Linked DNA regions of Homo sapiens. The protein of the gene in region 2 purifies or fractionates together with the protein of the main gene of each other region. This does not show direct contact. Each region holds a gene or a part of one and is shown on either strand. Other genes may lie near its edges.

What was found.
Region 1: the proteins of TRMT2A (region 2) and ANKRD17 purify together in Homo sapiens (affinity purification with mass spectrometry; 2 studies listed by BioGRID and IntAct, with this or other methods). This does not show direct contact.
Region 3: the proteins of TRMT2A (region 2) and PPP6R3 purify together in Homo sapiens (affinity purification with mass spectrometry; 2 studies listed by BioGRID and IntAct, with this or other methods). This does not show direct contact.
Region 4: the proteins of TRMT2A (region 2) and SMARCAD1 purify together in Homo sapiens (affinity purification with mass spectrometry; 2 studies listed by BioGRID and IntAct, with this or other methods). This does not show direct contact.

Annotation. Positions count from the first base shown.
Region 1 is NC_000004.12:73,255,774-73,263,571, forward strand, and holds the start of ANKRD17 (ankyrin repeat domain-containing protein 17), read right to left. Parts: upstream 3,026-7,798; 5' UTR 2,896-3,025; coding exon 2,503-2,895; intron 1-2,502.
Region 2 is NC_000022.11:20,111,356-20,114,242, reverse strand, and holds the end of TRMT2A (tRNA (uracil-5-)-methyltransferase homolog A), read left to right. Parts: intron 1-434; coding exon 435-557; intron 558-681; coding exon of another isoform or gene 682-735; coding exon 736-811; intron 812-1,008; coding exon 1,009-1,125; intron 1,126-1,235; coding exon 1,236-1,332; intron 1,333-1,426; coding exon of another isoform or gene 1,427-1,448; coding exon 1,449-1,680; 3' UTR 1,681-2,368; downstream 2,369-2,887. UniProt on the Homo sapiens protein: S-adenosyl-L-methionine-dependent methyltransferase that catalyzes the formation of 5-methyl-uridine in tRNAs and some mRNAs. Mainly catalyzes the methylation of uridine at position 54 (m5U54) in cytosolic tRNAs.
Region 3 is NC_000011.10:68,456,640-68,463,766, forward strand, and holds the start of PPP6R3 (serine/threonine-protein phosphatase 6 regulatory subunit 3), read left to right. Parts: upstream 1-4,112; 5' UTR 4,113-4,188; intron 4,189-4,987; exon of another isoform or gene 4,988-5,061; intron 5,062-7,127.
Region 4 is NC_000004.12:94,210,843-94,217,877, reverse strand, and holds part of SMARCAD1 (SWI/SNF-related matrix-associated actin-dependent regulator of chromatin subfamily A containing DEAD/H box 1), read right to left. Parts: intron 4,844-7,035; exon of another isoform or gene 4,726-4,843; intron 4,141-4,725; exon of another isoform or gene 4,108-4,140; intron 1-4,107. UniProt on the Homo sapiens protein: DNA helicase that possesses intrinsic ATP-dependent nucleosome-remodeling activity and is both required for DNA repair and heterochromatin organization.

The DNA.
Region 1 (7,798 bases), on a different chromosome or scaffold from region 2:
ACTGCAATGGTGCAATCTCAGCTCACTGCAACCTCCACCTCCCGGGTTCAAGCAATTCTCCTGCCTCAGCCTCCCAAGTAGCTGAGATTACAGGCATCTGCCACCACACTCGGCTAATTTTTTTGTATTTTTAGTAGAGATGGGGTTTCACCATGTTGGCCAGGCTGGTCTCAAACTCCTGACCTCAGGTGATCCGCCCGCCTCGGTCTCCCAAAGTGCTGGGATTACAGGCGTGAGCTACCACGCCCGGCCAATGGGCACACTTTCTTACACGTATTTCTCCTGACTCATCTTCATAAATGACAAACCCATTGTTTAACACCATGTAAAAGACAGGATAAGGTATGTTAAAAACATAGAAATACTACCATAGTTGGTGAAAGTCAACATAACCATTCCTATATTACAAAAGGAAAACAAACCTGACCCACAAAATAAACATACCTACAAACTTACAGCCATTCTTCATGATTTAAGGAATTACTAAAAGTTCTGCTTATTAGGCCGCATTCCAATGGACAAAACTACCTAGGTATGTTAAGTTTGCAGCAGAATATCCCAGTAAGTACTGCATTCAACTATCATAACCTTGCTCTAAACCAGAGCTTAATAGTTTCACGAGAATTTAAAATTTTAAGTAATGGTATTTTGCCTATAGCTGCATGATTGTGTTACCTTGCTATTCAGTAACTATTTTTCTGAATGATATCAGGAGGGTGATAAAAGGAAATAAATTATTATTAAAAAGTGTACAGGTCTGAGACATTAGAAAACTTTGATTTGTACTTTTGCTACTACCCACCACAACCACTTTCCTCTAAACCTTGTTTTCCTCCTTTTTAAAATAAAGGGCTGAATTACCTGTAAAATGTTTCTCACCTTTGAGAAGAATCATACAATTGAATGATTCTAAGTACCATAACAAATTTTATTAGGGATAAGGACCCCATTACATCTTTCTCTTCCTTGTTTCAAATGCCGCCAGAGCAACACACTATCCTAAACATCCAAGTAGGCCAATATAAGTCTATCAATACAAACCTATTCTCAGAATCCAACAGGCTAAAAGGGAATAAAAACAAGGACTGGCATATTTTTGTCATACATACTTCAGCACTTAATATCTCTACCTATACAACTTCATCCAGTCTGAGATAAAAGAGAATCTGGTCTTCTACAAATAGACATGTGTCAAATCCTTTAAAAGGTACTTCTCTATTTCAACAGAGACCAGGATTCAATAATTCCAATTTTCGGAAAACCAGACTTGCATCAAAATAAGTTCCATGTTTGTGGAAGAGAATAAATAGTAAGTGGTACTTTTAGATGAATCACTTGGTCTCCTCTTAGAACTAAGTTTAAAATCAGCCTTTAAAGCTGTTTTCCCTCTGCTGATAAAGATTTCCCTCTCCAAATAAAGATTTTTCTAGATTCTATTTCAGGAAGGAGACAAGAGAGTGGTAAAACAGCTAATAACTAGTAAAGCTAACTCTCAGTTGGTTGTCAGTATGGTATGTTTTACTGAGCCTTTGGGTTGTAAGGGCTTCTGTGAGGAATAAGGTCCTGCAACGCCGCCTGTCTGTGGACCCAGGAAAAATTATAAAGTTATTATGAAACCAGATCACTAGGACAAACCGAGAGGCCTTCCTATTCCAACTCACCACAACCAGGCCTGGCTCCAAAGCCTACCCTTTGGCTGTCCCATATTACGGGACAACAGGTCCTAGCTTAATTCTAACTCACTAAGGAAACATTCGAAGGCATGTATGTATGTACGTGTAAGGATCAAATATATTTTTCATCCACTTACAAATGTATATGGTCATTTGTAATTATTTAAAGTTACTGATAAATTTATACAAATACAGCATCAGTTCATCGAAAATCCCTGGGAGATCGAGGAAATGAAGTTACTTCAGCAGCCAGGATAGTTACGAAAAACCCTGCAGAACAGTATGGAAAAGTACAGCTTCTCACGTGTCCCTCACATACACAAACACTTAGCTCTGAGTCCATTACAACCTTACGTCCCCCCTCAAACTGCTCCCCTCCACCTCACAACTGGGAGAAGTTGATCAACCTCCTAGTTGGTCCCCAAGAGACTCATTTACCCATTATTTTACTCCTCCCGCTTTGATCCCGATCCCGCCTCAGACTAAGGTGGCCCTACTGGCCCCAGGCAGACCACCCCCCCACCCCCCGGCGTGCAAACAGGGAATCTAACCAATTCCCTCCATCCTTAACCAAGTGAGCCATCCCATGATAACAGGCTGTTCACCAACTCTGTGAACTCCGTGGTCCTCCCACCCCCACGTGTCAGCTACCCTCCCCCACATTCCCACACCTCACGATTTAGGCCGAGGGAAGAAAGGGGGCAGTCGAAAGCCTGGCCCCTAAGAGATCAACCCACTGGAATCTGTCCCACTCCAAATCCCCTCCCACCTTCGGCCCCTATCCCTTACAGTCCCTTCCTCCCTCCTTCCTTTGAAACCAGGCCCTTGCCTCAGAAACCTCCTCTTCCTCGTCGTCGTCGTCCTCTTCTTCCTCGCTGTTGTTACTGCTGGTGCCGCCGCCGCCACCTCCGCCTCCACCGCCGCCTCCACCGCCGCCGCTGTTGTCGCTGTCGCTGCTGCTTTCGCTGCTGCTGGGGGGTCGGCAAGTCCGGTTACGCTTGGCCTTGTGGTGCTGCTGCTGCGGCGGCTTCTTCTTCAGGAGCAGGTCGCAGACTCGCACCATCCCACGAGGAGACGAGGCCGAGCGAGCTCTGCTGCTGCCGCCAACGCCGCCGCCGACCTCCGCCGCCGCGGGGGGGCCCGCCACAGCCGCCACCGCCGGGGGGCTCCCTTCTCCTTCTGCAGCCGTCGCCGCCGCCACCGGAACCGTCGCCTTCTCCATCCCCAGGGAAAGAGGGAGGGCGCGGACGGGGGAGGGGCGTGGGGCTACGCTCTACCGCGACTTCGGCCGCACTGGGGCCGACACAGCAATCGGTGCCGCCTCCGCCGCCACCGCCTCGGTCACCTCTACTGCCGCCGCCGCCGCCGCCGCTCCGCCAGCTCTCACCTCGTCTCGCGATACTAAGGGCGGGGAGCCTGACGATGGGAGGGAGGGAGGGAGGGAGAGGGAGGGAGCAAGGGAAGGAGGGTGAGGCGTAACAGGGAGACCGGGTGTCGGGAGAACCAGAGGAGAGGAGACTGGAAAGAAGCGGGGAAGTGTGCCTGGGGCAGCTTCCGAAGGGGAACGGCGGGGACAGATGAGGGGGGCGCGATTGCAACCAGAGCGCCCGCGAGCTCCCGGATTTCTTCTCTTTCCTCGCTATTTCCCGCACACACAGCCCTGCAGCCCTCCCTTCTTCCTTCCTGGCTTGTGATTAGAACGCAGCCGCAGGCGGAAGTGCAGTGACGCCATCAGCCGTCGCCTGAGCCGTGGCGCGCGGGTGGCCGAAAGGCGAAAGTGAGATTTCAAGGGCCGGGTCTGGGGCCCCGCGGGCGCGCAGTGCTGCGGCGTGTGGGGAGTACGGGGAGGCTGGAGAGGAGCCGGCCCCGGGCAGTGTGAGGTGCGGAAGCGCGGTCCAGACACTTTGCTGACGGGAGGCCGGTCCGCCAGATCCGGGAGGTGGGGCCTCGTTCTGGACTGCTGTACGTAGTTTTATTCCTGGTCATTTTTTTCCACCGCCAAATCGAGAGATAGAGCTTTGGATCATGAGAGATGGCGTCGTGTTGGGAAAAGAGCCTTCTTTACCTGAGTTTAAGCTCGGCTCATAGACATCCTCTACCTGAGTTTACACGTGTGTAATATGAAGGCAGTCGATTAGGAGATGTCTAAGATCATTACTTACACCTCAAGTTTCCAAGGGGAGGAAGACACGGGAAGGATGCGTGGTCTGTGCCAGACTTTGTAGACGATTCACTGAATGACCCTGATTTAGCTCTTCCGGCCCTCTTCGATTCAGCTTGGAAGCAAGCATAAATAGTGATTGTTGTCTGTATACTTCTCTCGGAAGGAATGCTGTTATGGGAGTTGTGGGTTCATTTTTAGGTGTCTGAAGAAGTTTCAGGACTTTTGAAATGATAGTGGAGCCCATTGAACTCAGAATTATCCCTTTCTGGTCTAGTAGGAGTATAGTGGCATACGGAAAATGAAGCAAACATCAAAGACAGATGTACTGGCACAAGATTAAAAGTATGTCTCAGCTGACATAGTTGCCATTTTAAGACTGCTTAGTTTAGCTGAATATGCCTGGATTTTTTTTTTTTTTAGCATTTTTTTTCTTTTTAGCATTGGCATACCATATGAAATGTGGGCAGTTGCCAGTACTCTACAGAGTACCAAGGCAGAATTGGCAATGACTAAATCAATTCATTCAAACAAAAATTCATCATGTGCCTACTGTGCGCATAATTTGTGGAATCAAAGTCTCTTGTTTCCAGGGGCTTTACAGTGTAATAAGTGCTATAGTAAATATATATACGGAGTGGTAACCATCTGCCTATTCCTCTCCTACAGTCGTTGCTGAGTTCCAGTGTAGAACAGAGCACTGCATTGTGTATCTCACCACTACTGATTTAGATTTTATAATTTCAGCTGCATCCCTCCCTCCTACTTTGTATATTCTTCAGCATCTTTTTCTCCCTTTCCACTTGAATACTTTTCGCAATCTTTAAATCCCAGCCCATTTTATTATATGACTTTTAACTTAGACTTCACAATTTTCCAAGTGCTAGAAATTTCCTGAGATTGCCTTTTCTCCAGTATCAACGAATGAGAGACTCCCTGTTCATATATGAGATAAACTCTTCATACATATTCTAGTTCCAATACCCCTCTTTCTCATGCATTTATTATCTTTTCTGTTGTCAACCTTCTACAAATTCTGGTTCCTTAGCTAATTCTTCTGTAGCTTTCAATTATTTCCTTCACAAGCAAACTTTCTTTCTTTAAAAAGTATTCTATACTCAGGAGGCTGAAGCAGGAGAATCGCTTGAACCTGCGAGGCGGAGTTTGCAGTGAGCTGAGATCCTGCTACTGCACTCTAGCTTGGGCGACAGAGCGAGACTCCATCTCAAAAAAAAAGTGTCTACAATCAGTGTCTTTTTTGTTTTCTGAAATTGACTTGTCAGCCCTCTGCAGTCTAGTCTCTGTGTCTATCGTGCTGTGCTACCAAAAATGCTCTCTTTAAAGTAATCTCATTGTTTGGAAGAAAATGAGTTTTTTGTTCTTTAATATAATAGTGAAATGATGATCCTGTTTCACTAGTAGGATAAGGTTCAAAACTATTAAAATGGACAAGGCATGTAAAGTCACTTTCTTTTATTTTTATCTTTTTTTCCCCCCGTTAGAACCTCTGGCAGGGACTGACTAGCCCATGAAACTTATTTCTTCTTCCCGGGCACACAGCTAAACTAAATTTCACAGCTTTCCTTGTAGTTGGTTATAGTCATGTGATGAACTTCTTTTTTTGAGACAGAGTTTAGCTCTTGTTGCTCAGGCTGGAATGCAATGGCACAATCTCAGCTCACCGCAACCTCCGCCTCCCGTGTTCAAGCGATTCTCCTGCCTCAGCCTCCCAAGTAGCTGGGATTACAGGCATGTGCCATCACACCCGGCTAATTTTGTATTTTTAGTAGAGACACGGTTTCTCCATGTTGGTCAGGCTGGTCTCGAACTCCCGACCTCAGGTGATTCCCCCACCTCGGCTTTCAAAGTGCTGGGATTACGGGCGTGAGCCACCGAGCCTGGCCGTGATTAACTTCTAGCCAATTAAATATGAATGGAAATGATGTGCTCATTTTTAGGGTTAATGAAGTCCTCCTATTCTCCCTTACTCTTTCTTCGTCAACTTGATGCCTTTGAGCATGGTGACCTTCAAAACTATGTATTGGAGATGCCAAAGCCAGAAAAGAGAAGAATGAGTGGCTGAAACAGTACTTGGAAGACAGCCACCCCAATTAGAAACACCCCTTTTTGCACTTACTGTAAGAGAAAAAATTGAGATTTGAGAATTTATATGTATAGGAGCTAGAATGACCATAGCTAGTCCAGAAATTGGTACAAGAAGTGGAGTACTGCTAAAACAATAACCTAAAATATGTTACATCAGCTTATTTATGATGCAGCAGGTGGTAGAGAATGTGATTTGGAGGCTAGAAAAAGGAGGCCCATGTTTGCAGTGGCAAAGTAATTAGTAAAACTGTCACCTGAAATAATTCAAAATCAGATCACCTATCTGTTTAGATTAGCTCCAGAGGAAATGATTGAAAAGAGCAAAAGTAATACTGTGTTGAATTTTACATTTTACTTTTAGTAAGGTTTTACTAAAGAGAGAAACTCAGGAAATACTTCACAGAAGTGAGAGTGTACAGGAATATTTCTCAGGAAGGGTTGGAAAAGTTGACTTTTATAAGACTTCTAATAAAAAAAAAAAAAAAACTAGAAGAGGTCTTGAGTATAGTTACCCTTGAGATTAAGTCCTGCAACAAAGATCAGGAAAAGGGTTTGGTCTTTCCATTCAAAGTCATTATTTTAGATGGCTTCAAGATAGCTACGATAAAGGTCTAAAGGAACTGGCATAGGAGCAAGGCAGCAAAGCAGTAAATTAGGCTTGATAATTATGTAAGAAAGAACTTTGGGTGTAGTTACCAGAAGCAAATCAATCAGAAGACTACATTTTTAGAGGAATTTTATTAATCATACTAAATCTGGCTCAAATATCATTGTTCGGGTGTTAAAACAGAGGGTAACTGTCCAACCCCAAGCTTGCATAAGTAGAAAAATAGAGCATAAAACCTTAACAGCTCCCCAGTACCCACACAGGATGTGGCCATGGAGAATGATGGACAAAAAAAGAACATTTCAGAAGCTCGTATAAGGAGCTGTACTAAAGACTGGACAGGGAGTTTCTCCTGAAGACTAGAATTGGAGTTTCATCAGAACTTTCTTCAGTTTCAAGGAGATGGGCCGCAAAATGTTTATGCAGTATTTCATCATTATTATACATGAATAGTATTGCTCAGTATCACATTTTTTTTCTGAATGAGAGAATGTATTATAGTTATCTGTCCCTGAGTTACCACTATATATTGGGTTTGCAGGGATGGGGGTGACAATAAAGATAATTTGTCTTTTTAGTTCTTAGGTCACATCTGTACCTAATGAAGAGAACTGCACATTTTCTGAAAATCCTAGACTTTGAGCCTGTTCCAGTAACTGGTTAAAACTTTAGATTGTCTCCTTTGGGACAGGGTATGTTCTGTGTGTGGAAAGACAGGTAAAATACATGTTTAGTGATCAGAATAGTAGATTCTTGCAAATGCTAAATTCTTCTGGCCACACAGCTATATTTCCATGCCTCTCTTGCAATTAGGTATATGGGTTAGGTGTGCTGATTAGGTTCTAACCAGTGGAATGTGAGAAGTGATGCACTCCTATTCCAGCTCTGGCCTATGGAAACATCACATGAGCAATCCAATATATCCCACTCCCCATCAACTTGAGGCAGATGAGCAAATTTGCACTGGAAACTATGTGTTAAAGATGGCAAAGCCGCAAGATAGGACTCCTGGTTTCCTGAATCTTCACTTGGAGGATACTTGCTTCCCAATTAGAGACACTTGTGCTAGAGTTTCCTGACTCTTCACTGGGAGGATACTTGCTTGCCAATTAGGGACACTTGTGCTACAGCTCATACGCATTCTTTTGTGTTAGGCCACTGAGATTTCAGAGCGTGCCCTAATAAAGACCTGTCCCTCTTTCTCCAGATGCAATCGTTCATTACCTAATTCTAATTTTTATACCACAGGAG
Region 2 (2,887 bases):
CAGGAAGGCTGTGGGGACCTGGAGCGGCCGTTTTTGGAGACAGGCCTGGCAGGACCTCCTGGAGGGCTAGGTGTGGGGGTGGGAGCTGCAGTTGGGTGATTCCAGGGGCCCCGGTGTGAGTTGTGGGAGGCAAAGCCCCCTTGCTGGGGCAGGGAAGGTACAGCCTATTGGCCTGCGGGGCCTCATGAGCCCTCAACCAAGTGGGGCAAGGAGGAGGCTGTGCTTAGCACGGGCTTGGCTTTTAAAGCCAGGGGCTGGATGAGGGCATCAGCAAGGCTGGTCCAAGGTGGGGTCAGGGAAGACGTTGGGCACCAAGGTGGGGAGTGGGCGCCGGAGGTCCCGGCAGGATGGAGGGACCAGGAATGTGGGCGTCGGGGCACCAGTGGCACCACAGGAGAGGAGCCACTGACATCCTGGGCACCGCCTGCCCCCAGGTGAACACACCCGCAGCCGAGGTGCTCTACACAGTCATCCAGGACTGGGCCCAATTGGATGCGGGGAGCATGGTGCTGGACGTGTGCTGTGGCACCGGCACCATTGGCCTGGCCCTGGCCCGGGTGAGCCCTCCTGCCCTGCTGAGGGCACCCTCTCCCCACCCCAAGACCCCCATTGACCCCAGCTCAAAGTCACCACAGCTGACTCCATCATGCCCCAGGCCCAGCTCCTCTTTGCTGCCCACAGGGCCCCATGTACTCCCCTCCCTGGGTGGGGCGACACCACGCTTTCCTGTTTCAGAAGGTAAAGAGGGTCATTGGGGTCGAGCTATGCCCAGAGGCTGTGGAGGACGCCCGGGTGAACGCCCAGGACAATGGTGAGTGGCAAGGCCGTGGGTGGGGGTGGGGATGGGGGCAGCCGCCACCCCTGCTGCAAGCCTCAGCCACAGCCAGGGCTTGGGGGCTGCCCGACAGGTAGAGCAAGTGAGCAAGCTCTTTGGCTAGGGGTTCCCCAGGGCTGGCCCTGCTGGGAGGGCATGTGGCCCTCTGACAGGCCACGGTGCCATCTCTTCAGAGTTGAGTAATGTGGAGTTCCACTGCGGGAGGGCCGAGGACCTGGTGCCCACCCTGGTGAGCAGACTGGCCTCCCAGCACCTCGTGGCCATCCTGGACCCACCCCGTGCTGGCTTGCGTGAGTGGCTTTTGCTTAAGGAGGTGGCACGGGAACGAGGACACATGGGGTGGCTCACCATGTTATGCACTCTCTGGCTGTGGGGACCCAGCTGGTGTTTGCCTCCTCAGATTCCAAGGTGATCCTGGCCATCCGGAGAGCTAAGAACCTCAGGCGGCTGCTGTACGTCTCATGCAACCCCCGGGCAGCCATGGGCAACTTTGTGGAGTGAGTGTCTGCAGGGGCCTGGGTGGGGGCTAGGCCTGCTACCAAGCCCCCAGCTCCCACAGGAGCCCCTGATTAGCCTATCGGCTGACCTTAGCGCCCCCCTTTTCCCCCCACAGCCTCTGCAGAGCCCCATCTAACCGGGTGAAGGGCATTCCCTTCCGGCCGGTCAAGGCTGTGGCAGTGGACCTGTTCCCGCAGACCCCGCACTGTGAGATGCTCATCCTGTTTGAGAGGGTGGAGCACCCCAATGGCACAGGGGTCTTGGGGCCCCACAGCCCTCCAGCTCAACCCACACCAGGACCCCCAGATAACACCCTACAAGAAACTGGGACCTTCCCCTCATCCTAGGCCCAGGACCCATTATGGGGACAGGAGCTGAAGGGCTCCCAGGGCCCCAGGGGCGGGGAAGGCATGGCTTGCTGGCCAGGATATTCAGAGGTAGGCAGCCAAAGGGCACAGAACCCTGTGCCCCACCAGGATTGGCCTGCTGCTAGGGGCCAGGGGCCCTGACCAGGAAGACAGGTGGGTTCCTGTAGCCTGTTGCCCATCCCCAGGGCCTTTGTGGACTAGCCAAGGCTGTGAGGGCCAGAATAAACAACTGCTCAACAAAGGGTGTTTCTGTGATGAGAGCCAGGGGTCTGAACACAGGGCCTGGGTGCCAGGGAAAGGGCCAAACTAGGCCTAGGCAGCTCTGCAAGCCTCTCTGCATGGCTGGGGGAGTCAGGGCAGAGCTTACTTTAAAAAAGAATGTTCGATTTGATACTTAAACTTGAGGAGAGGCAGAGAGAGGTCTGGGAACTGCACCAGCTGGGGGCATGGGGTGGAGAACACTGGGCAGAGTTGGCCCCTCTGTGGCCAGCCTGGCCCTCAGCCCAGCAGAGAGGGCATCAACCAAGGAAGGGGCCATGCTGGGGTGCTGCTCAGCTGTTACAAAGGCAGGGTCCAGCCTGCAGGGAGGCCCCAGGAGGGGATCTGGCCAGTCAAGGGTCCACAGGGTGCCAGCCTCTCACCCTCAGAATAAAGACATCAGCCATTCCCTTCTGGACAGTTTGCTTTATGTGTTCAGACAATCAAGGCTCGCCTTCCAGGCACAGCCCAGTGCCCTGGATGGCATCAGCACAGGCTCCCCTGCCCCGGCCTTGAAGCATGGCTGTGTGCACGATTCATACCCATGCTTGGCAGACGGGTGGGGGGGGGGGGGGGGCGCACAGAGACCACAAGAGTATGGCAGCACCTGCTGTGGTGGTGCCTGGGAACAGCAAGACACAGCGAGGCTCCCCAACCTTTAGGGGAACACATGTGCACGAAGCTTTGGTTCACAGGCGCATCTGGCTGGCTAAGGGCAACAGTCACAGTCAAATGACTATTCACAGCTGCAGACAGGAGGCAAGACAGAAGCAAGTGTCTAATTATAGCAATTTGAGTTGAGGGTTTCTTTTTTAAAGGTCAACAGAAGCCAACCTTGGTCACACAGGTAGTGAGGGAAGGATATGTTGTGGGCGGCCCACAGGCCAACATTGTTTTCCTGACAGAAAAAAAAAAAAAAGCGCCATCA
Region 3 (7,127 bases), on a different chromosome or scaffold from region 2:
ATGTCCTTTCTTTTATGAAATTATGATAATAGTAAATACTTAAAAAAAATCATTACAGAATTAAAATTGGGGGCCGGGTGTGGTGGCTCATTCCTGTAATCCTAGCACTTTGGGAGGCCAAGGCAAGCGGATCACTGGAGGTCAGGAGTTCAAGACCAGCCTGGCCAACGTGGTGAAACCCTGTCTCTACTTAAAACACAAAATTAGCTGGGCGTGGTGGTGTGTGCCTGTAATCCCAGCTACTCAGAAGGCAGAGGAAGGAGAGTCGCTGGAACCTGGGAGGCAGAGGTTGCAGTGAGCCAAGATTGTGCCAATGCACTCCAGCCTGGGCAACAAAGCAAGACTCCATCTCAAAAAAAAAAAAAAAAAAATTAAAATTTGGCAGCTCTGAGTCTGTTCCCAAAATTTAAGTCATGATAGCCAGGTGATGGGTGCTTGAGCATGCAGCCTGCTCTTCTCTCTGCTTTTGAATATGTTTGAAACTATTCAGTTACATGTGTGTTTTTTTAATAATTTGTTATTAATTTTTGCGGGTACATAGCAGGTACATATATTTATGGGGTTTTTTTTAAAGTCTAGATGGATTGAAAAGTTTAATATTAATATGAAACATTAAACTACAAAAGGATCAGGAGGAAAGACAGAAGGTGGTGATCCCTGAAATCTAGAAGTTTTAGGGTAGAGACGTCAATCTGTGTAGAATGCAAAGCTTCTAAGTCATTCCTCTGCTTAAAGCCTGTCAGTAGCTCCCCATGGCTCTCAGGACCCAGGCTGAGCTCAGATACCTCCTCCTCCAGGAAGTCCTCCCTGACTTCAACCTTCTGGTTAGGTTAGAAGCAAACCATAAGTGGAGACCTTAGGGGCCCACTTACGTTGGGCAAGGTACTATATGATTTCATTATAATGTATATGGCCCTGTGACCCACCTCAGAGTCAGGGATGGAGGAGCCTGGTGCAGATACTGGCAAATCCTTTGATGATGAGTGAGTATAGGGATGCAAGGGTCGGTGGGGGTGTTGGGTCCTCCCTGGGCTCCCCAGCACGGAAGGACGGACGGGAGCCCAGCCCTGGCTGCCCCCTCCTGCCCATGGCCCAGCCTCCCTCTCAGGCACCAGCCAGTCCCAGGACTCTCTGAAACCTTTCCTGGGCTCCTTAGTCCAGCTCCAAGCTGCCCCTCTGGCCCTGTGCTACACCTGGTGCTCCCTGCTCTCGCTTCCAGCCATCTTCTCTAGAGTATGGCCAGCCCTTCTTCTGCCCGGAAGCTTTCCTTGGCTCCCATGGTCTGAGCATAAACCCAGGTTCCTCCGCCTGGCTTCCAAAGCCTCCATGGTCCCTTCTGCACCTGCTTCTCGAGCTGTTGCCCCAGACCTGAGATCAGCCCCACCCTGCCTTCCACGGGGTGTGCTCCTTCCACCTTGCTGCCTCGGCCTCTTTCCCTGGCATGGCCGCTCCCGCCCTGCCCAGGTGATCAGCCTGTGAATCCCCTCCCTAACCCCCACACAGAGCACACCTCCCAGGCTGGCTTCCGGCTTGACTATGTTCCTCCATGCCTCTCTGAGTAGCAGGATCAATGTGAGAAAGGTCTGCCCTGTCTGCAGCCTCCCCAGAAGCACAGTACTTTTCGTGGCGCGTACACGGGCTGGTAGATACAGTTGTCCCTCTGTATCCGTGGGAGATTGCTTCTGGGACCCCCAAGGATTCTCAAGTCCCATATATAAAATGGCTTAGTACAGTTAACAACAGAGACGTGTTCTGAGAAATGCATCGTTAGGCAATTTTGTCCTTTGCAAACATCACAGGTATACTTAGCACAAACCCAGATGGTCTAGCCTACTACACACCTGGGCTATATGGGATAGCCTATCGCTCCTAGACTACACATCCATACAGCATGTTACTGTGCTGAATACTGAAAGCAGCTGTAACACAATGGTAAATATTTGTGTATCTAAACATAGAAAAGATCCAGTACAGCTGGGCGCGGTGGCTTACGCCTGTAATCCCAGCACTTTGGGAGGCTAAGGTGGGTGGATCACCTGAGGTCAGGAGTTCAAGACCAGCCTGGTCAACATGGTGAAACCCCCATCTCTACTAAAAATACAAAAATTAGTGGGACATGGTGGCATGCACCTGTAATTACAGCTACTGGGGAGGCTGAGGCAGGGAGAATTGCTTGAACCCAGGAGGCAGAGGTTGCAGTGAGCTGAGATCGCCCCATTGTACTCCAGCCTGGGCGACAGAGCAAGACTCCATCTCAAAAAAAAAAAAAAAAAAAGTCCAGTACAACTACAATATCATAATCTTATGAGACCAGTCTTTTTTGTTTTTATTTATTTATTTATTTTTTGAGACAGAGTTTCGCTCTGTCGTCGAGTCTAGAGTTCAGTGGTGCAATCTCGGCTCACTGCAAGCTCCGCCTTCCGGGTTCACGCCATTCTCCTGCCTCAGCCTCCTGAGTAGCTGGGACTACAGGCGCCCGCCACTGCGCCCGGCTATTTTTTTTTTCTTTTTGTATTTTTAGTAGAGACGGGGTTTCACCGTGTTAGCCAGGATGGTCTCGATCTCCTGACCTCGTGATCCACCCGCCTCCGCCTCCCAAAGTGCTGGGATTACAGGCGTGACCGCGCCGTGACCTCCTGTGGATTTTCATGGGACTCTGAGAGGCGCCTCAAATCCATTTTGGAATAAGGCAGGTTATTAGCATGGGGTCTAACCGTGGGCTGTCTCGGTGTCCTGGGCTGGCTCTTGGGGCGGGGGTCCTGATGTCCGGGACCTCGGTCCTACCTGGGAGGCACAGATATGGCGGGGAACGGGAAGCCCGGGGGAGCATTTAGAAGCTCGTGTGCACAGGGAAACCCTGTCTCTACAAAAAAATTAAATTAGCGGGGCCCAGTGGTGCGTGCCTATGGTCCCAGCTACTCGGGAGGCTGAGGTGGGGGGACTGCTTGAGCCCAGGAGGTGGAGGCTGCAGTGAGTCATGATCACCCCACTGCACTCCAGCCTGGACAACAGAGCAAGACCTTGTCTCAAAAAAGACCCCAGGCCAGGCGCGGTGGCTCACCCCTATAACCCCTGCACTTTGGGAGGCTGAGGTGGGCGGATCACCTGAGGTCAGGAGTTCGAGACCAGCCTGGCCAACATGGTGAAACACCCGTCTCTTCTAAAAATACAAAAATTAGCCGGGCATGGTGGCGTGCACTTGTAATCCCAGCTACACGGGAGGCTGAGACAGAACTGCTTGAACCTGGGAGGCGGAGGTTGCAATGAGCTGAGGTCGCACCACTGCACTCCAGCCTGGGGGACAACAGGGAAACTCCGTCTCAAACAAAACCAAACCCCAAAAGTTCTCGTCTAAGTCCTTCTCCCAGGACAAGGGCACTTATCTCTTGGCGGTGCGTCACAGGTAGGGATATTCCGCGATCCCTCACCTTGACCCCGCTACGAGGACAGCCACCTCTTTCAGGTAAAGAGATCGCAATGGGAAATCATTCTGATAAAAATTCCCCTGTGGAGAATGCAGGCATCGATCCCGTTACCTCTCACATACTAAACGAACGCTCCTCCACTTAAGCTGATTCCCTAGCCCGGCCTAACCTTTGCAGCCGGCGCATATTGTGGCTCACGTCACCACCGGTGTCCCCCGCCGCCCCCGCCCCGCCCGGCCAGCTCGCCACCCTATTGGATCCCTCACGGCTCCGGCTCCACGGCCATGATGGGCTTGGCTCAATTTAGTTTTAAAAAGCATTGGCCACTCGGATTGGTGGTCCGAAGCGTCCGTCAAGCGGAGGACCTGCTGTTGCTACGGCGTAGGGGGTCCCAGCCAGGTTTCTCCCCGTTTCTGATTTGTTTCTCAGGCTCCGGGGTCCTAGAGGTTCCGGATCCGTCAAGTCCATGGGAAAAGAATGCGCCCCTCGCGCTTGACTGACGAGGCTTGCGGGCCAATCGGAATGTAGTCAAAGGAGCCGCTAGGCGATCCAATAGGTAGTAGGGGGCGGGAGAGAGGGGCCAATGAGCCTGGAGCTGGGGGCGGGGGCAGGGCCGCGATTGGCTGAGAGGCGGCCAGAGGGCGGGCGGGGGGGAACTCAAGGCCTGCTTGATACGTCCGCCATTTTGGGCGCTTCGCTGATGGTGTCGGTGAGCGCGTTTCCCGCCTGAGCGCAACTAGCGGCGGGTCGTGGGCACCTCCAGGTAATGGGGGTAGGGGAGGCGCCGGAGCAGGCCGCGGCGCGGGGTGTGCGAGGCGCGCGGGCAGGCGCGGGGCCCCTCCACCTGGCCTCAGCGGCTCAGGGAGGGAACGTCCCGGCCCCTCTCCCCTCCCCCCCCGGAATTCGTCGCTCCGCGGGCCCGGGAGGCGCGGCGCCGAGTCCTTCCCGGCCGCTCCCCGTCCGCTCCTGTTAGCCGGGGGCCCCGCCAGGACGGGCGCCGGGAGCGGGACGCGGTCGGGGCGGCGACTTTGTGCCTCGTTGACGTTCGCGGCCTGGCGCGGCGGGCGGGCGAGGCGCGCCCCTGACCCGGCTCTGGCTCCAGCCTTCCCGCCCGCCGGCCGCGGCCCGCAGTCTCGCCCCCCGCCCGGCCCGCGCCCGGTCTCCGCTCCCGCTGGGCCTCCCGGGGGCCTCGGGGAGCGCGTCAAGTTGAGGCAGCAACTCGCCGTCAAGAGTCGCGAAGACCATTGTTGGACTCTGCTCTTCGGGAAACAAGTTTTGTGGGTTTCTGTTAATTCGCCGCAGAGTCATCGGGATCCACACCAGCCAGTTCCGAGGCTCCCAGTACCCTTCCCAGTGGCTTTTTAACTCCTGTGAGGTGGCTTGTATGTAAACTGTCTCGAATGCCTCCCTGGTGTATTTGAGCCGGGGGTGGGGGGGGTGGGTGGTCCTTCTTGTGGCTTGAAGTCCCTCCCTCTTAAAGAAGCCCATTCACTGTTTACTTGGAGGTGTTTCCTGTTGAGGTCCTGCTGGCTGTGATCACAATTTAGACTTTTTAATTATAGGTGAACGGGATGGGTCTTTGGATGTACCTCCGTGCCCTGACGTTTCAACCGCGTGACTTAATGTCATTTTCCTGGTACTTCACGTTTTCTCTGTGGGGCTTTGGGTCTGTTTTGCTTTTATGGGAGGGGGTGCTTGACAGGCGTTCCCTTTCATCCTCGCAGCACTTGTTGACGGGGTGGTGTCCTTTATTCGTGGGACGTTTACTTTGATTTTGTCCTCAAGGTCATGTTGCAGATAGGCTTCAAGGGGGACAGGGACTCCAGGTTTCCAACCACCGAACTGTGCCTCAAGTAGCAAGTGTATGAGACCCAGTTATGGTGGTGGTTGGGTTTTCCTCACTGTGGAGTGGAGTCAGTGACCACTTTTTAGCTCTGTGACCTTGGGCAAGTTACCCAGCTTCTCTTTTTTTTTCTCTGTAGTATGGGAATAATAATAAGTGTCCCAGCCATAAGTTTGTCAGGATAATTGCCCTAATACATGTAAAACAGCTAGAGCTGTGCCTGGCACATACAGTCACCTCAGTGGCTGATTAGTGGTTAGGCTAGTTAATGGCTATTATTGTTTAATTTAAATTTGATTTTTAAATGTTTAGGTACTATTGGGAAGTCAGATGAGCATTTGAGTCCCGACTCTTGGTGACTGCCTTTAGAAAGCTCTGTGTAAGACTCAGTTGGGCTGAAAAAGTAAAACTATAAGTTATTTTAATTTTTTCAGGACAGGGTTTTTGACCATTCCTTAAATTAGGAACATTTACCGGAGTAATTAATGAGTAGTAGCGCCTCATAATGTTTAAAGAGATGGTTAAATACAGAAAAGCCCATCACAAGCTTAAGTCGGGCTTTGTTCCTCATGTGCTTTTGGATACTAGTTTCTGGGTGACTGCCACCCGAATCAGTAACTAGGGTTTCTTAGTGTAAGTCCTCCTTGTTACTGAAAACTGTAAGGGTGCCGTGGATTGCAGTATTCTTCAGCAAAGATAGTTTGGGAAATAGCTTTTGTCCTGGAGGGATACTTTGGAAGGTATTCTCCACTTCAGCATGTCTGGTCAGGGAGTCTAGAACATTGAACAAAATGCCTGCACTCAGTCAGAAATAAACTCACAATCCTTTACCGCTTGCCCGATACTCTCCTCCATGGTGCTCGAAACCTTGCGTGCACCTTCCCCTGGTATTGTTGTGTTTACTTGGGACTTGGTTTGCTGTATTGGAGATGTGTGTTTTGATGGACTCAGTCTTAAGTAGAGATGAGTATCTTGCTGGTGGAACTTAAGGACAGGAAGAAGATTGTTTTCGGTTTAGAACTCTAGCCTTTGTGTAAAGTATAGCAAAGCAAAGTCAACAAGCAAAAAGTTGTTAGTTTCAATGAACTAATTGAGAATTTGAGAATCAGACCATAGCTGAGCAGAAAATGAATAGAAGTAACATTGACAGGATGAGGTTGCCTAGCTTTTTAAGATAAAGCTTTGGCCGGGCGCAGTGGCTCACGCCTGTAATCCCAGCACTTTGGGAGGCCGAGGCTGGCGGATCACTTAAGGTCAGGAGTTCGAGACCAGGCCAACATGTGAAACCTTGTCTCTATTAAAAATACAAAAATTAGTCGGTCATGGTGGCGTGTGACTGTAATCCCAGTTATTTGGGAGGCTGAGGCAGGAGAATCGCTTAAACCTGGGAGGCGGAGGTTGCAGTGAGCCAAGTCCAGCCTAGGAGACAGAGCGAGACTCAGTCTCAGAAAAAAAAAAAAAAAAAAAAAAGATAGGGCTTTGCACCTATTTGGTAGATTATGTGCTTGTTACAAATAAACATCTCTTTAAAACAAGTGTCACGATCGGTATTTTATTTCTATGACAACTTCCATTGTCTAGTTCTATATTTTCAGTATTTGAGAGGCAGCCTCTGTGTGTGTTTGTGTGTGTGTGTGTTTTGGTCTAAAATTTTACAGTATTTTACTAAATAAGAGTAAATGATAGTGAAAATAAAGCTCTTCTATCTGCTCAACTAAAACTCAGCATTGACTTGGTCCTTAGAAGTTATGGTCTGCACCCCAGTATTGGCTGCTACTTTTTCTAATGTACTGAAAAAAAGATCTGGCCTCTTGGCTTTAAACAGCTTTCATATTTCTTTCCTTTCTTAACTTCAAATG
Region 4 (7,035 bases), on a different chromosome or scaffold from region 2:
CACTTTGATAATTTTCTATTTGTTCTACTCCATTAAAAATTGTAGTTATACATATTTAGTCAGGACCCAAGAAATTGATTTTATGACACAATAAATGTTTATGATCCAGTTTGAAAAACAAAGATATAATAAAACTCATCTATTATTCGACATATAATTAAATCTGTACTTAGATTATGTTTTCTTTCCAAGCACCCTTGAATTTTTACAGAAATTAAATATTAGGCCACAAAGAAAATCTGAGTTAATTTCCCCCAAAGAAGAAATACTACAGACCACATTCTCTGGTCACAAAACAGTGAAATTAGAAGTAAATGTTAACAAAAATATGCAAGCAAAATTTCTGCCAGTTGGAAATTTTTTAAAAAGAGACAAAACCTCATAAAAATGGCTTCTAAACAACTTTCAGGTCAAAGAGAAAACAACAACAACAAAAACACATCAAAATCTAGGATACATCATATATATGACACTATAAAAATTAAAATAATCTGGTAAATTAAGATTAGAGGAACAGATTAACAGACCCAAAGATGCAAACAAACATGGGAATTTTAGACTATAATGATGACATTTTAATGTAAGAAAAAGGATTTTTCAATAAATGAAAAACTGACTAGTAACTGGTGAATAATGAACAAAGGAGAAAACGATATCACCCTTTCTTTAGTCCCTATAATGAAATAAAATTCAGAGGAGATTTAAAGTTAAAAATCAACACGAAACCCAAAGTGAGATACAAACTCATGTCCATTATGTTGGCTATTATCAAAAACACAGGAAATAACAAGGTTGGAGAGGATGTGGAGAAACTGGAACCCACCACACTGTTGGCAGAAATGTAAAATGGTGGAGCACCTATGGAAAACGGTATGGAGGTTCCGCAAAAAATTAAAAATAGAATTACTATATGATCCAGCAATACCACTTCTGGGTATACAACCAAAAGAACTGAAAGCAGGGTTTCAAAGAGAATATTTACACATTCATGTTTACTGCAATACAATTCAAACAGCCAAGATGTGGAGGCAATCCAAGTGCCCATTGATGGATGAATGGATAAACAAAATGTGTATATACACACAGTGAAATATTATTCAGTCTTAAAAAGGAAGGAAATTCTGATATATGCTACAACATGGATGGATCCTGGGGATGTTATGCTAAGTGATGATTCCACTTTAATGAGATACTTAGAATAGTCAAATTCATAAAAAGACAACGTAAACGGTAGTTGCCGGGGGCTGGGGGAATCAGAAATGAGGAGTAGTTGTTCAATGCATAAAGAGTTTCAGTTTCACAAGATGAAAAGAGTGCTGGAGAATAGTTGCATGACAATGTATATGTATTGAACTGAATGTACTGAACTGTACACTTAAAAATGGTTGAGATGGTAAATTTTCTTATGTGTATTTTATCATAATTTTTAAAATTAACAGACATACTAGAGGAAAATATGAATGAGTATATTTATAGTGTGGTAATGCGGAATGCAGAAGACTTAGAGGAAAGGATGAACAAGGTGACCACATAAAAATCTAAAATTTTTCTATGGCAAACAACAAAGGGGGTGCTATGGTCTGTTTGTGCCCCACTCCCCAAAACGGTATGTTGAAATCTTAACCATTATGGTAATGGTATTAGGAGGTGACATTTGCTGGAGGGAGGAAGGGGTATTAGGTGATGGGGGCAGAGCACTCATGAATGGGATTAGTGCCCTTATAAAAGAGGCCCAAGAGACCCCTCACTCATTCAGCCACATGGGGTTAAAAGATTGTGGTCTAGGAATAGGGCCCTGAGATACCTAATCTTGCAGCACCTTGATTTTGGACTTCCCAGCCTCCAGAATTGCCAAGAGTAGATTTCTATTGCTTATAAGCTACCCGGTTCATGGTAGTTACAGCAGTTCTAACAGACTAAGACACGTGGAATTTAAGATATACTTACAAATAATTTATCGGAGAGACATGTATTAGAAAAACAGAAAAGCATAAAGAAACACAAAAAATCCAAATGGCTAGTAAATTTATGAAAACATACTTAAACTAAAAAATAAAGAAAAAGCAACAATAACATACTTTTGCCTATTAGCTTATTAAAGATAATAAAGGTCTGCAATATTTTAGACAGGTATGAAAAAGCAGACATCAAAACCAAGATGTAGTCTGATACAAACTAGTGAAATTTGTGTGTAGGGTGAAGTGACAATGACTAAAATAATATTTCTATCCCCCTCCTCCCCCCCACCCCCCTTTTTGGGACAGAATCTCACTCTGTTGCCCAGGCTGGAATGTAGTGTAGTGATCACAGCTTACCATAACCTCAAACTCCTGGGCTCAATCAATTCTTCTGTCTCAACCTCCCAAGTGGCTAGGACTACAGGTGCACACCACCACACCTGACTAATTTTTTCATTTTTTGTAGAGACAGGGTCTCACTACATTGCCCAAGCTGGTCTTGAACTCCTGGTCTCAAGCAATCCTCCTGCCTCGGCCTCCCAAAGTGCTGCGACTCTACAGGCATGAGCCACTGTGCCCAGCCAAATACATGCACATTTAAAATGCACTTAAGATTCCTACTTACTTTTGAGTACTTATTGTACTTTCTGTTACAACAATTCAGCACTAACCCTTTAACTAAGTATTGCTTTTCAATTAACATTAACAGACATTAAGAAACCACAATGACTATCTACAGGTTTAACGATGGCTCACATTTTGGCCACAGACACCTACAAAAAGACTGAGTATTGCGCAATGGTCACGGAATTATGAAGCTAAAATGATACATTCAGTATCATCATTCAAAGGATAATAACCATTTTAATGTGGGCAAGGAATACAGAAAACTAAGCAAAGCCAGGAGAAGACTGTAAGACCCAAACAGTTGACTTTTTACTCAAGATCATACAATCTGTATGTGGCAGAGCAATACTCTCAGGAAATCTTTCTGACGACTGGTATAGTTTTAAAAATGTCTCTCACTTATCAACAAGTGCTACTTTCAATATGACAACCACCTTGAAAAGGCAACCACTCTAGAGGACTAAATCTATTTCAGCAAAAAAAAAAAAATTCATCAAACATATACTAAAACTTTCCTCCATTCCGCCAATGCCAAAATAATCTATGAACCCATCTATTTTTATCTCCTTCAATTATCCCCCCCAGGGAAAATATGTCTTTATTCTTTTGCACAGTTAAACAGTCCAACTGTTCTTCAGTTCTCATCACTTGATGCCTCTCTTCAGATACCTCCCTCCCTCAGTCCTTCCCTCTCCACTAGCTTCTTGTCCTTGGTTAACAAACGCTTGGCCAGGTGCGGTGGCTCATGCCTGTAATCCCAGCACTTTAGGAGGCCGAGGCGGGCAGATCTCAAGTCAGGAGATTGAGACCATCCTGGCTAATACGGTGAAACCGGGTCTCTACTAAAAATACAAAAAAAAAAAATTAGCCCGGCGTGGTGGCGGGCACCTGTAGTCCCAGCTACTCAGGAGGCTGAAGCAGAAGAATGGCATGAACCCGAGAGCAGAGATTGCAGTGAGTTGAGATTGCGCCACTGCACTCCAGCCTGGGTGACAGAGTGAAACTGTCTCAAAAAAAAAAAAAAAAACAAAAGAACGCTCAATTTTCAATAATCCTGAAACATATTTTCTTGACATTACTTCCCAATCAGGTTACCTATTTCTCTCTTTCCTTTCCTGAATGAATAATCTCTATCTCATCACCATTCTACTGAAACTGTTAAAGGTTAGTAGTTACTTTTAATTCCAAGGAAACTGGTCACTGATCAGTCCCCACTCAACTTGACTTCTCTACAGGATTTGTTACTAGACAACTAAATACCAAACTAGGTATTTAGGTATCCAGGACACTATCATTTTCTATGACTATTCTAGTCATCCTTCAAATTTTTCATTGGTTTTCCTGCCCATTGTCAAATGATGTTTTTTATTGTACACCCTGCTTAGGACATTGATGAGTCCCAAGTTCTAGGGTTTAGACCACTCTCTGAGCTCTAATATTCAACCATCTACTACCTTGGTACTAAAATAGGATGGGTAATGCAAACACAACATAATTTTTAGTATCTTTCTCCTAAACTCACCTCTTAATTCAGTCCATGGTGTCAATCCTCCAGCTGTCCAAGCAAGGAACATTTGAGTTATCTGTAAATCCTCCACATTCAACTGATCACCTAATATCATCAAATGCGTATCATTTACAACTCCCCTCAGTTGCCTCCTCTGTCATCTCTACAGTCATTTCCCTACATTGAGGCTTCAATGAATACAACAGCTTCACTAATAGCATTTCCATAATGAAATGCTCTATGATGTGTACCAAATAAGATCTACCGTCCCTGACACAGGATATAAAGGCCCCTCACAACCCAATGGTTTACACTTCTATCTTTTCAGTTTCATCTATATTGTCTAAAACCTCCTGTTCTATAATCTGCCCCCAACCCTCCACACACATATTAGACTCTTGGAGGCAACATATATTTTCAACTCTCTCATCATTTGTTCACCCAGTAAACAATGATTTCATTGTTTAGAGTCCACTCCAAAGGTCATATCTCTGTGACTTTTTGTGATCCTCCCCTGAAGAATGGATAATTCAATCATTTGTGAATTACAGATAGTGATTCTACTTTGCTTAGTATTTTGCCCTATTATATGGTTTTATCACACCATACTATTTTAACTATATATTTACATACCATTTTCTCCTGGTGCTCTTGGAGGATCAGGCTTCACTCATTTTTATTCTTTATTCATAAAATATAGTAGGATCTCTCTTCCCTTTCACCTGCCATTATTTCAATCCCTCCAAACTCACTGTACTCCCAAAAGTCAAAGAAAAAAAGGAGAAATAATGTGTAAATAACAATCATTGACAACTTTGGGCACCGAGAAGAGTAAAATAAATCAGGGGGCAGAGGTTAAGTGTATGCCCTCAAATCCAAAGGCTGGCTGGGATTTAGAGGGGCATTAGGGAGGATGTCCTGTACCAAAAGAAGCTTCAAGCAACCATGGCCAAAGAACACCTGATGGCTAAAGGGACTATTTTAAGGTCCTATTTTAAAATAAAGGTGTGGTGGCTCATGTCTGTAATCCCAGCACTTTGGGAGGCCAAGGCAGGCAGATAGCCTGAAGTCAGGAGTTTGAGACTAGCCTGGCTAACATGGTGAAACCCTGTCTCTACTAAAAATACAAAAATTAGCCGGCTGTGGTGGTGTGCACCTGTAGTCTCAGCTACTTGGGAGGCTGAGGCAGGAGAATTGCTTGAACCCAGGAGGCAGAGGTTGCAGTGAGCCGAGATTGTGCCACTGCACTCCAGCCTAGGTAACAGAGCAAGACTCCATCTCAAAAAAATAATAATAAATAAATATGTATAGGGCTGGGCGTGGTGGCTCATGCCTATAATCCTAGCACTTTCAGAGGCCAAGGCACGTGGATCACTTGACGTCAGGAGTTTGACACTAGCCTGGTCAACATAGCGAAATGCCGTCTCTACAGAAAATACAAAAATTAGCCGGGCATGGTGGCATGAGCCTGTAGTCGCAGCTCCTCGGGAGGCTGAGGTATGAGAATCACTTGAACCCAGGAGGTAGAGGTTGCAGTGAGCCAAGATTCTGCCACTGCACTCTAGCCTGGGCCACACAGTGAGATTGTCTAAAAACAAATAAATAATAAATAAATTTTAAAAAATGTATAAAGTACTAATAATGCCCACTCATCATGCAATAATATTTACTTCAATGCACTTATTGAGGGCCTACGACAAGCCAGTCGTTGCCCTGAACAATGGAGATAAATAGGTGAACACAACAGATAAGGTCCTGCTCTCATGAATCATATGTTCTAACAAGGGAGTCACAACTATATAATGTAATGTTAGCTAGTGATACACAACTACATAATGAAAGGTTAGCTAGTGATAAATACTATGAAGAAAAATAACAGTAAAGCTGGGGTAGGGTGGGCTGGGGTGGGTGGCTATTTCACAGGGTGATCAAGGAAGGTCTTCTTAAAAAGGTGACATTTTACTGAGATTTAATGAAACAAAGCATCTGAGTCATATGCAAATATCAGCAGGAAGAGTCTTCCAGGCAAAAAAGCAAATTGGAAGAAGCAAAGATGGGACCTTGCTTGAAAGATTCAAGAAACAATGTGGTGGTGGCACAGTAACTGAAGGAGGGTCATAGGAAATGAAGTCAACTCACTAGATAAAATAACAGGATTAGTCAAAAAGAGTGATTACAGGTAATTTTGACTACATACAATTTCTGTCCTGTAAGCTGACTTAGTTTGACCTGACACTTTACTGTAAATAAACTAACGCAGCATTATCCCACAATGGGAGTATGAAAAGTTACCACATGATAAAGAAGTAAGGTCAATAGTCACATCCTATTTATAATTCACCAATTTTCATCTCCAGTCCTGACCTTAAAATCTAACTTCAGTATCTTGTCCTCTCCAGAGATCCAACACTCAATTCTGAATCCCCACTTCCTCAGCAATCCCTAGACCCCAGGCTAAATTAGCACTTGGGGGCAGGACCTTTGATTTTTATTCTTATTTATTTATTTATTTTGACATGGAGTTTTGCTCTTGTTGCCCAGGCTGGAGTGCAATGGCACAATCTCGGCTCACTGCAACCTCCACCTCCAGGGTTCAAGTGATTCTCCTGCTTCAGCCTCCCGAGTAGCTGGGATTACAGGCATGTACCACCATGCCCAGCTAATTTTATATTTTTAGTAGAAACGGGGTTTCTCCATGTTGGTCAGGCTGGTCTTGAACTTCCAACCTCAGCTGATCAGCCCGCCTCAGCCTCCCAAAGTGCTGGGATTACAGGGGTGATCCACTGTGCCCAGCCAGACCTTCGATTCTTATTTGAATTCTTAAAGACATTTACCTTTTTTTTTTTTTTTTTTTTTGAGATACAGTCTCTGTCCCCCAGGCTGGAGTGCAGTGGTGTGATCTAGGCTCACTGCAACCTCTGCCTCCCAGGTTCAAGCAATTCT